3 linked regions of the Homo sapiens genome follow. The protein of the gene in region 1 interacts with the protein of each later gene in a pairwise test. Each region holds a gene or a part of one and is shown in the gene's direction. Other genes may lie near its edges. The genes, in order: NUPR1, KNSTRN and PER1.

Evidence for each region.
Region 2: the proteins of NUPR1 (region 1) and KNSTRN interact in a two-hybrid assay, tested with the Homo sapiens proteins (2 studies listed by BioGRID and IntAct).
Region 3: the proteins of NUPR1 (region 1) and PER1 interact in binary tests that used the Homo sapiens proteins (3 or more experiments, as listed by UniProt).

What each region holds. Positions count from the first base shown.
Region 1 is NC_000016.10:28,532,278-28,536,024, reverse strand, and holds the end of NUPR1 (nuclear protein 1), read left to right. Parts: 3' UTR 1-3,317; downstream 3,318-3,747. UniProt on the Homo sapiens protein: Transcription regulator that converts stress signals into a program of gene expression that empowers cells with resistance to the stress induced by a change in their microenvironment.
Region 2 is NC_000015.10:40,385,665-40,389,411, forward strand, and holds part of KNSTRN (small kinetochore-associated protein), read left to right. Parts: intron 1-697; coding exon 698-830; intron 831-1,494; coding exon 1,495-1,542; intron 1,543-3,747. UniProt on the Homo sapiens protein: Essential component of the mitotic spindle required for faithful chromosome segregation and progression into anaphase.
Region 3 is NC_000017.11:8,150,385-8,154,131, reverse strand, and holds the start of PER1 (period circadian protein homolog 1), read left to right. Parts: upstream 1-1,727; 5' UTR 1,728-1,795; intron 1,796-3,286; 5' UTR 3,287-3,425; coding exon 3,426-3,700; intron 3,701-3,747. UniProt on the Homo sapiens protein: Transcriptional repressor which forms a core component of the circadian clock.

The sequences.
Region 1 (3,747 bases):
TGGTCTCAAACTCCTGGCCTCAAATGATCTGCCCACCTCAGCCTTCCAGCCTTTGGGAGGCCAAGGAGGGAGGATCGCTTGAGGCCAGGAGTTCGAGACCAGCCTAGGCAACATACCAAGGCCCTGTCTCTACAAAAATTTAAAAATTAGCAAAGCATGGTGGCTCATGCCTGTAGTCCTAGTTGCTCAGAGGCTGAAGTTGGAGGATCCCTTGAACCCAGTTGGAGGCTACAGTAAGCCATGATGGTGCCACTGCACTGCAGCCTGAGCAATAGAGTGAAACCATGTATTGAAAAAGAAAGAAAGAAAGAAAGAGAAAAAGAAGGAAGGAAGGAAAAGAAAGGAAGGAAGAAAGAAAAGAAAGAGAGAAAGGAGAGAAAAAGAAGAAAGAGAGAGAAAGAGAAGAAAGAAAGAAAGAAAGAAAGAAAGAAAGAAAGAAAGAAAGAAAGAAAGGAAGGAAGGAAAGAAAGAAAGAAAGAAGGAAAGAAAGAAAGAAAGAAAGAAAGAAAGAAAGAAAGAAAAGAGCGAGCCCCGGCACAGTGGCTCACACCTGTAATCCCAGCACTTTGGGAGGCCAAGGCAGGCGGATCACCTGAGGTCAGTAGTTCGAGTTCGAGGCAGAAGTTGTGGTGAGCCAAGATCACGCCATTGCACTCCAGCCTGGGCAACAAGAGCAAAACTCCATCTCAAAAAAAGAAAAAGAGAGAGAAAGAAAGAGAGAAGGAGGGAAAGAAAGAGGAAGGAAAGGAGGGAGGGAAGGAGGGAAGGAGGAAAGGAGGGAAGGAAATATTAAGGGATTTGCCCTAGCTCACTCAGGGCTCATATTCAGGGATCTTATTGTCTTCAGATATGAGGTGGGTCCCCAGGCCAAGGGGGCTGTGGGACAGGGTTCTGGGAAGTGAGATGGGGGAGGGAGATTCTTATTCAGTGCTATGTCTCAGGACCAGAGTTGAAGAAAAATATGGGGCAAACAGGAAGTGTGGTTGGAGCTGAGATTATTTGTTGATTGAGATACAGGTTTGGGTTGCTATTATGAAGAATCAAAACAGGATACAAAGTTACTCCTCTCTTACTTAGCCCCAAGTCCTCCTGGGTTCAAATGGCAGCTCCATTGTGTTGAGGATTCCAGCTATTTTTACTCACTGTTCTGCCACACCCAAAACATGGCTTCCACTTTGAGGCCCAAAATAGCTACTCCAATACCTGCCATCACGTTTGCATCTCAGCCTGTGGAAAGAGTGTGGAAGAGACAGAGGAGGCCACACCTCTTCAATTTTAGGGCATAATCTAAAAGTAGAACACATCACATCTGCTCCGAATGTGGCTACATGGCCACACCCAACTACGAGAGAGGTTGGGAAATGTAGCATTGAGCTGCTTAGCCACGTGGTAGCCAAAACTTGGGCAACAGCAGGGTTTTATGATGAAAGGGAACCAGAGAGAGTGAATACACGAAGAAGCTAGCAAGAAACATTGCCCACATGCAGACTCAACAGATGTCGGGGGAGAAAACTCTGAGATTGGGCCCCGGGCAGAGCCTGTTTCCTTTTCCCCTGTCCCTTTCACATAAGCCCCACACTGCAGAACTTGGAGTCAGTGGTTCATGGGGACCCAAGGACATCCACAGAAGACCGAAGTACCTGATAGAGCAGGAACAGATGCACGTCAGACTACGACCAGCTTGAACCCTTGGGGACCTGTATCCATCCCCTTCCCTTGAGTCCAGCCTAATCACAGCCACAGAATGAATCCATGACCCGGAAGGACATTTAAGGACCTCTGGCCCAACTCTCCCCACGCAACAGTGGGATTGCCTCTGCTTGTTTGAATACCACTATGGAGGGGGAACTTGCTACATTTAAAGGTTGCTGAATTTTTTTGTTTTGTTTTGGGAGATGGAGTCTCTCTCTGTCGCCCAGGCTGGAGTGCAGTGGTGTGATCTCGACCCACTGCAACCTCCGCTTCCTGGGTTCAAGCGATTTTCATGCCTCAGCCTCCCTAGTAGCTGGGACTACAGGTGTGGGCCACCACACCTGGCTAATTTTTGTATTTTTAGTAGAGACGGGGTTTCACCATGTTGCCCAGGCTGGTCTCAAACTCCCGACCTCAGGTGATCTGCCTGCCTTGGCCTCCCAAAGTGTTGGGATTACAGGCTTGAGCCACACCACCCGGCAAAGGTTGCCTAATTCTATCTCAGGGCAAGTCTGTTCATGTGGGCTGAAATCTGTCTCTCATACCTGCCCTTAAATAAGCTTCTGTTTTTCTGGTCCTTTCTGTCTGAGATGACTTTAATTCCTCCCCCGACCCCATCTCATGAGGCTCAGCTTAGATGTTTCCTTCTCTTCCTCCCTGATGGCTGCGTGCAGAAGCTCATACCTGCAATCCCAGCACTTTGGGAGGCCGAGGTGGGAGGATTGCTTGGGCCCAGGAGTTCTAGGCCAGCCTAGCAACACAGCAAGACCCTCTCTCTACAAAAAATTAAAAATTAGCCAGGTGTGGTGGCTTGTGCCTGTGGGCCCACCTACTCAGGAGGCTGAGGTGAGAGGATCTCTTGAGTCTGGGAGGTGGAGGCTGCAGTGAGCCATGATCTCACTCCAGCCTGGGCGTCAGAGTGAGACCTGTCTCAAAAAAACAAAAACCAAAGTTTTCCTTAACTTGCAATCCTCCACCCATCTCCTGACCTCCACCCCAGGCCGACCCTCCTCTGGGATCACACGGAAGCCTGGGCCCAGAATCTTACAGTCTACCTTGGAAATCCTTCAGATTTTGCCTCCAACTCCTCTTTCCATACAAGTTACATATTAACTCAATCAATGCTTATTGGATGCCTTCTGAGTTACCAGGATGCTGCTGGAGGCCTGTGCTGCTGAGAGGGACAAATAGAATCCTGATATGACTGGAACCAGGAATAGGGCCACCATCAGCTCTAGAACCCAGGGAGCAAATGGCAGGAGCAACACCAGGCAGTCGGCCCTCAGCCCAGCACAGACCTGGTGTGTTGGCTTCAGAAAATCCTGGAAACATCTCTGCTGTGTTTGGAGCTCCTATTCTGTGAGAAGTGTTTTATAGGCTTTGCTCCATTTAATCCTTACGATAACCCAATAGGACATACTATTAATGATCCCCTTTTTTTCAGACCGGAAAACTGAGGTTCGGAGACATTAAGTAATTTGCCTAAAGTCACACAGCCACATCCTGTAGGACTTGGAATTATGAACTCAGGTCTATCTGAATTTTAAAGCCTGGATTTTTCCCCCTTTGCTACATGCCTGGGAAGAACCATGTATTGACAATGAAGAATCCTAAACTCTCGTTAATTTCTGGTCAATTACTCCTCTGGGCCTGGGTTTCCTCACCTGTCAAATGGTGAGACTGGCCTCTCTTCTGTCAAAAGAGAAAATGAAGGCTGGGAAGCACTGTGTCCCTAGCTGGAATGGCCACTCCCTGTCCTGGGTCCTTTGACACCAGCCAGGAGTCCTCACACACTGCCCCTCCCTCCTGGCCTCTGATTGGCCTTTCCTGGCCTCGCCCTCGCCTGGCACAGCCTCTGCCTGAGAGGCCTTTAAGTGGCTGTTCTGGGAATTAAGGCAATTCTTGGAATTGCAGAATTTTTGGATCCGAAAGGATCCTACCCAGACTCTTCCTCTTCTGTCTCCATCCCCTTTCCTAAACCCTTTCTTTTTCTTCTGGTTGCATGTCTGTTTCCCCATTTTGGGGGGATCCCCCTGAGAACTAGAGAAATCACTG
Region 2 (3,747 bases), on another chromosome or scaffold:
ACTCAGAGCAGCTCAGTCATGCCTTAGGAGAGTGTGCAGAGTGCTTGGAGGAGCTTAATGAGATGGTACAAGGATTCAGGCATGTTTTACCTGCTAACTTCCACCCTGCTCTCTGCTGGTGTCCATCTCCATGTTCACTTTTACAGCCTACACCTTTCAGTTCAATGAAACTTTTGGCTACCCTCAAACATGCTGTACTGTCACGTTTAAATAATTTTGGTTTTTATTGCCAATTAGCCTGGAAGTTTTATTCTTTTGAATTAATCTTCACATGTTGAAATTTGCCAGAATGAAAATAAAGATTTGGCCAGGCATCGTGGCTCACGCCAGAGTGGCCAAGGCAGGAGGATTGCTTGAGCCCAGGAGTTCGAGACCAGGCTGGGCAACATAGTGAGACCCTGTCTCTATTTTTAAAATTTTAAAACATATTTGAGGTGCCTATAGTCCAGCTACTCGGGAGGCTGAGGCAGGAGAATCGTTTGAACCCAAGAGGTGGAGGTTGCAGTGAGCCAAGATCACACCACTGTACTCCAGCCTGGGCCACAGAGCAAGACTCTGTCTCAAAAAAATAAATAATACTTTTTAAAATAAAGTAAAATAAAGATTTATGACAACTTCGAATGGGGCTCTGTTTGTTACAGGGTTGCAACTGTCGGGTCATGATGCCAGAAGCTTTACCTCTCATTTTCCTTTGCAGACACACAAACTCGGGCCACTTCTAAGAGTCTCTTACCTGTTAGGTCCAAAGAAGTCGATGTTTCCAAACAGCTTCATTCAGGAGGTCCAGAGAATGATGTTACAAAAATCACCAAACTGAGACGAGAGAATGGGTGAGAACGGATCATTAGTATCCAGTTAGAACATCTTCCTAGAAATTGCTCAATACAAAGAATTAGAAAACAGAGTTTTGGACAACACAAGTCTCCTGAACAACTGGCCTTCAATCAGTGGCCCAGAGCAGTGCAGCATTGCTGAGCTCTGTGCCAGAACCCTCTGTGTTGATCTTTCTGAAGAGACACAGCCAGAGTTATAAGAGGTGTTCTTTCCTCTTTCATCGCTTGCTCTGAGCATACAAGTGGCAGCACTGTAGTCATACAGCAACCCTGAGGGGTAGTCATGCAGGGTGGGGACTAGTTGTTATCCTAGGTTGCTGCTCTGACCACACAGTCCAGCCCTAGTGTGTGTGTATGTCCCCAGCCAGCAGTCAGTTCCAGGTGAGTGAGGTTGACATGAGATAGCCACGCCATCTTGAGAGGAACAGCTCTGTCAGGTTGTTAGGGTGGTCGGAGGCATGCCCCTTTGCTACTAAAAAGCCTTTTCAATAATCTGTGCCGAAGCAGTAATGCATAGTCTCTCAGAGCTCTTAAGCTTGTGCCATTTGCCTTTTATGTCTGGTTCTTTCCTCAGAAACTCAAGCTCTTTGTTCTGCCTGTTCACAGCACACTTAACAGTACTGTAAGTCTCTGATTCATTTCTTTGTTTCTGCCCTCCTAGGCAAATGAAAGCTACTGACACTGCCACCAGAAGGAATGTCAGAAAAGGGTGAGCATCAGGGTAAATCAACTTGGCCACTATTCTAGGGTAGTGGATCTCAATCCTTGGTTCTGCATCAGAATCATTTGTGGGACTTGTTTACTGTGTTAGGGTCTGGGTTCCACCTCAGGAACCTGAGTGGAATTTTCAGGGGTGAGGCACAGCTAGGTGTAAGAACCATTGTCAGTGCAAGAATCACTGGTGCTACTATCTTGTGTCTCAAGCAAGAGCTTTTTGGACTCCACGCCAGGACCACTGCTGATTGGAAATCACACTTAGCTATGGCCCATCAACAGGAGGGTAAAGCCTTCAGGAGAGGAAGGGCTGGGTGTATGTAGTTAGTGATCTCGAGATGAAGATTCTGGTGGTGGTGGTGGTGAAAACCTGGAGAAGGATTCATGTCTCATCTTTGAGGCTAGTTTGGAAGTTTTGCACTATCAGAAATAGAAATAATAAGCTGAAAAGTCTGTACAAATAGGTTTTAGTTCCAGATCTATTATTTGGGCATATCTTAAAAGTTTTGAAGACAGCAGGGCACACCAGCTCACACCTGTAATCGCAACACTTTGGGAGGCCAAGGTGGGTGGATCACCTGAGGTCAGGAGTTCGAGTCTAGCCTGGGAAACATGATGGGACCCCATCTCTACTAAAAATACAAAAATTAGCCAGGCATGGTGGCGCATGTCTGTAATCCCAGCTACTCAGGAGGCTGAGGCAGGAGGATCACTTCATCCCGGGAGGCAGAGATTGCAGTGAGCCAAGATCACGTCATTGCATTCCAGCCTGGGTGACAGAGCAAGACTCTGACTTACAAAAATAAAAAAGTTTTGAAGACAAAATACTAGCAAAAAAGACTGAGAACTTTAAGAAAAAACTCTAATATTGGTTGCTGAGACCAGCTTGGTCGGGGAGACCCTAACCCAGCGGCGCTAGAGGAATTAAAGACACACACACAGAAATATAGAGGTGTGAAGTGGGAAATCAGGGGTCTCACAGCCTTCAGAGCTGAGAGCCCCGAACAGAGATTTGCCCACGTATTTATTAACAGCAAACCAGTCATTAGCATTGTTTCTATAGATAGTAAATTAACTAAAAGTATCCCTTATGGGAAATGGATGGGCTGAATTAAAGGAATAGGTTGGGCTAGTTAACTGCAGCAGGAACACGCTCTTAAGACACAGATTGCTCATGCTATTGTTTGTGGCTTAAGAATGCCTTTAAGGGCCGGCGCAGTGGCTCACGCCTGTAATCCCAGGATTTTGGGAGGCCGAGGCGGGTGGATCTCAAGGTCAGGAGACCATCCTGGTTAACTATGGTGTTTCACCGTCTCTACTAAAAATACAAAAAATTAGCCAGGCATGGTGGCGGGTGCCTGTAGTCCCAGCTACTCGGGAGGCTGGGGCAGGAGAATGGTGTGAACCCAGGAGGTGGAGCTTGCAGTGAGCCGAGACCACGCCACTGCACTCCAGCCTGGGCGACGGAGCGAGACTCCATCTCAAAAAAAAAAAAAAATGCCTTTAAGTGGTTTTCCGCCCTTGGCAGGCCAGGTGTTCCTAGCCCTCATTCCCGTAAACCCACAACCTTCCAGCATGGGCATTAGGGCCTTTATGAACATGTTACAGTGCTGCAGAGATTTTGTTTATGGCCAGTTTTGGGGCCAGTTTATGGCCAGATTTGGGGGGCCTGCTCCCAACAATTGGTGATATTAGAGTTTATTAGATGATAAACTAACATTAGATAATAGCCCAGCTACTGGGCTAAGAAATGCACACGTGTTTTCTCTCTTATTACTCATAATAATAATACTATGAGATGTGGGTATTGTCCTGATTTCAAAAATGAGGAAACAAGGCCTCAGGGAGGTTATGCAACTCACTGAAGGTCATATACCACTGTGTAATAGCCAGGATAGAATGGGACGTGTTTGTGTAACTCTGTAGGCCGTATTTTTCTTTCTTTTTTTTTTAGACGGAGTTTTGCTCTTGTTGCCACCCAGGCTGGAGTGCAATGGCGCAATCTCAGCTCACCACAACCTCCGCCTCCTGGGTTCAAGCGATTATCCTGCCTCAGCCTCCCAAATACCTGGGATTACAGGCATGCGCCACCACGCCTGACTAATCTTTTGTAATTTTAGTAGAGACAGGGTTTCTCTTATCTTGGTCAGGCTGGTCTTGATTTCCCGACCTCAGGTGATCTGCCTGCCTCAGCCTCCCA
Region 3 (3,747 bases), on another chromosome or scaffold:
GAAGGGGGAGAAAAACCATGTTTCCAGGGAAGAGGTATCTGCAAACGAGATAAGGCCAAAGCCACAGTATGAGTTGGGGTGGAGAGGATCATTTTCAGGGAGAGGAGACTGAGAATCCAAGCTCCTGAATCTTTTTTTTTTTTTTTAATAGAGACGGGGTTTCTCCATGTTGGTCAGGCTGGTCTCGAACTCGCTACCTCAGGTGATCCGCCTGCCTGGGCCTCCCAAAGTGCTGGGATTACAGGCCACCGCGCCCGGCCTCCAGGCTCCTGAATCTTTTGTTTTCCTGTTTCGATTTTTCTGGGTTAATTTATAACACGATCTTGTCTCAGCTTTTCCACAGAGCCCTCCCCTTCACCCTTCCCTCATTGTTCAGGAAAGCTTAGGCCACGTGACAGTGAGGGGAGTGCCCCCACAATGATTATGTCAGCAGCTGCTTGGAGGCCTGTTCATCTACTACCCACGTTTCCAGGGAGCCCTGCGAGGAACTACTCATCACGGTCCTGGATGGAGGGGGCTGTGTAACTGCAGCTCTCCTGAGCCCAGACTAACATTTTATTGCCTGCAAATCGTGCCCCTGTTCTCTTTCTAGGACTACTCATCTCTTTTAGAGAATCAGAATTCCCAGCCCCCTTTCTCCTGTTGACACTCTTTTCCCACCTCCCCAACCTATCCTTGTTTAAAAAAAAAAAAATCATGTTTATCGATCACTTGCCATGTGTCAGGTCCTGTCCTGGGCTCTGGAGACTACAGTGAATGAGACAGATGACGTTCCGTCTGGGCCCCTGGAGTTTGGCTTTCTCTTTTCCAAGCAGTGGAAATATGAAGCCCTTGCCACCCCACATTTCTCTGTCTAGGGCCCCAGCTGGCCTCTTCTCTGGGCCATCCCCTTGGTCCCTCTGTAGTCCTGGCTTCCTGGCCCCCACTTTTGGGGCAGCTTTAACTGTGGGTGGCTGCGTCCTCTGGAGGAAAGTACTAGACACCACGTAGGCTGCCCGGAGACCTTGTCTCTGAGTGGCCATAGAAGCACCTGCCATTGTTTCCCTTCACAGCCACTATTGGCTCTGGTTGCCCCTTCCATTGTCCGCATCCTTCCTCCACCCACTCACCCACCGGTCACACGTGGACCCTTAACTGTCCTCTCCCAGGATTTGAAGTGTCAGAGGAAGTGCTTCGGTTAAAGGGCTTCATTATGTAGAACGAAGGTTGGGAGGGAACAAGGTTGGGAAAGGAACCCAGGAGAGGCCCAGGCAGGTTTCTGTCTCTCCCCTCCTCTCAAGGACCACCCATCTCATCCAGCGTGGCCTAACTTGCAGCGCCATTCCTTTTCCTCACCCTTGGAAAGGCGAAGATGCCAAGATGTTGTGTTCTGCAAGGCTAGTGCGTTCAGGAAGTAGACAAGTCTTGAGCACCTACCCCGGGCCGGGCTTTTTCCCTAAAGAGGCGCAGCGTATCTCCCTCTCTCCTCCCTTCCATTATTCAATGTGCAAGCGTCCTGCGCCCATTGGCTGGGCGGTGTCTGGGGCTCTTCAGCCCAGCACCAGCACCCAGGTCCACGTGCGCCCGTGTGTGTGACACAGCCCTGACCTTAGTGGAGACCACTAGCCAATCAGGCGCCGGGAAGAGATCCCCAGCCAATCGGGGGCGGGGCCTGCGGCTCCGTCGGCAAGAGGCCAATGAGGGGGCAGTGCCCGGCATTATGCAACCCGCCTCCCCGCCCGCCCGGTGGAGCTTCCACTCGGCTGCGGGCTGGAGCGGCGGCGGGCAGGCGTGCGGAGGACACTCCTGCGACCAGGTAGGCATCTCTGCGGCCATCCTGGGGCCGATCTCCGTCCCTGAGCCGGACCGCTGCCACTTCCAATCTGATGGGCTACTTTCGGCCCAGGCAGAGGGCACACTGTCGTCCTTACCGCTACCCACCCTCTCCCTGCCCCCAAGGACCGAAGTCCTCCTCGAAATCTTGCACCGGGAGTCTGCACTCCTGACCCACTCATCTTACCTCCAGCTTGTCCCCACCTCCCCGTCCCAGCTTTCCCGGCCCCACAGCCGACTCTCAGCGGGCATGCCCCGGTCTTCTTGCTCGTTACTCGAGGGGCCCCAGGTTTGCCCCGGTACCAGGACCCTATTAGGCTTTCAGCGCTCCCCGTGTCTCTGTTCTCCAGTCCCTGGCCCTGCGCCGCCTGTGATGTCAGCCCACTTCGGACTAGAACATCCCGTTCCCAGCGCTGGTTCCTGCTGTTGGCCACAACCTTCCCTTTTCCCCTGGCGCTCAGAAAATGCTCAGTAGTAGGGGTGTGGTTGGACGGGGAGTAGGGGAAGAAAGATCTGTTGGCTGTTGTGTGTCTTCTGCCCAAGGCTTGGGGTTGGTGGGGGGGTCTGGCCAGAAAAGTAGGGGACTGAAGAGAGAGGATCCTCGGGTCCTTGACGATGGCAGGTTGCCGGCTTCGGTCCTTGTGGTGGGGAAGCAGCGCAGGGGCTAAAGAAGGAAAGGTTGTGTTGTCTTGACCAGAATGACTGGGATCCAGGCGAGAGTCAGGTTGAGGGGCTTTTGCGCCGAGGGCAGTGGCCGTTGTGCTTCGTCCTGGGGAAGCCAGGACCAACCCTGGGATCCTAATAGGCCGTCCCACTTCTTACGGCCACCGAGCCATCCTGGGACTGGGGATATGTAAGGGATGCGTGACCCCCCCGGCCGCGCCCACCAGTGTGAGAGTGGGCCGTTCCCCCACTTCCGCCGGGAAATGGGGGAGGGGTCGCTCCTCCCGCCCTCCTGTGGTCCCTCCAGCAACCGCTGAGCTCAGCAGCTGACGTCGGTTTCCCTGGCGACCGTGGCGGCGGCGGAAGCGCGTGGTGGGGCCGCGCACGTCGGCGCGCATGTGCAGCGGGGGTGGCACCGCCCCCGGATAAAATTAGCCTGGAGGCCTAAATATAGGAGGCGACCAGCTCACCTCCTGCTCCGAGGCCTTGGAGGCCCAGGCAGAGTGGACACCTAATGGGAACTTGGGAATGGGAAGTGTCCAGGTTTTTGTCTACAGCCGTGGTTCTCATTGACTGCTCAGGCCATGGTGGCAGGGGATGTGAAGGAAGGCCCCGGAGAACCTTCTCCCGCTGGCAGTCCCCCTAAGGGTACAGGAGACATCCTGACTCCCCATTGGAAGCCCCAGGCCTGGGTTCCACTCCCATCAGTCCTGCAGGAGGCCAGGCAGGGGGAAGGTCTGAGTGAAGCCAGCAGGTGCTCTGGAGTTAAACCAGCTTTCTGCAAGCCCTGCTTCCTGGTCTCCCTCTCCAGGTACTGGCTGTGATCGAACTTCTCAACCCTCAGAGACTTAGATCTTCCACCTCACTCCCTCAGCCAAGCCTCCAGGCCCCCTCGTGCATCCGTGGTGGCCTCTCTGCCTTCTCTGTTCTGTTCTCCCCATGGCCCAGACATGAGTGGCCCCCTAGAAGGGGCTGATGGGGGAGGGGACCCCAGGCCTGGGGAATCATTTTGTCCTGGGGGCGTCCCATCCCCTGGGCCCCCACAGCACCGGCCTTGCCCAGGCCCCAGCCTGGCCGATGACACCGATGCCAACAGCAATGGTTCAAGTGGCAATGAGTCCAACGGGCATGAGTCTAGAGGCGCATCTCAGCGGAGCTCACACAGCTCCTCCTCAGGCAACGGCAAGGACTCAGCCCTGCTGGAGACCACTGAGAGCAGCAAGAGGTGTGTATGGATGTGTATGTTGGGTCTAGGAATGGTCTTGTGAGCAG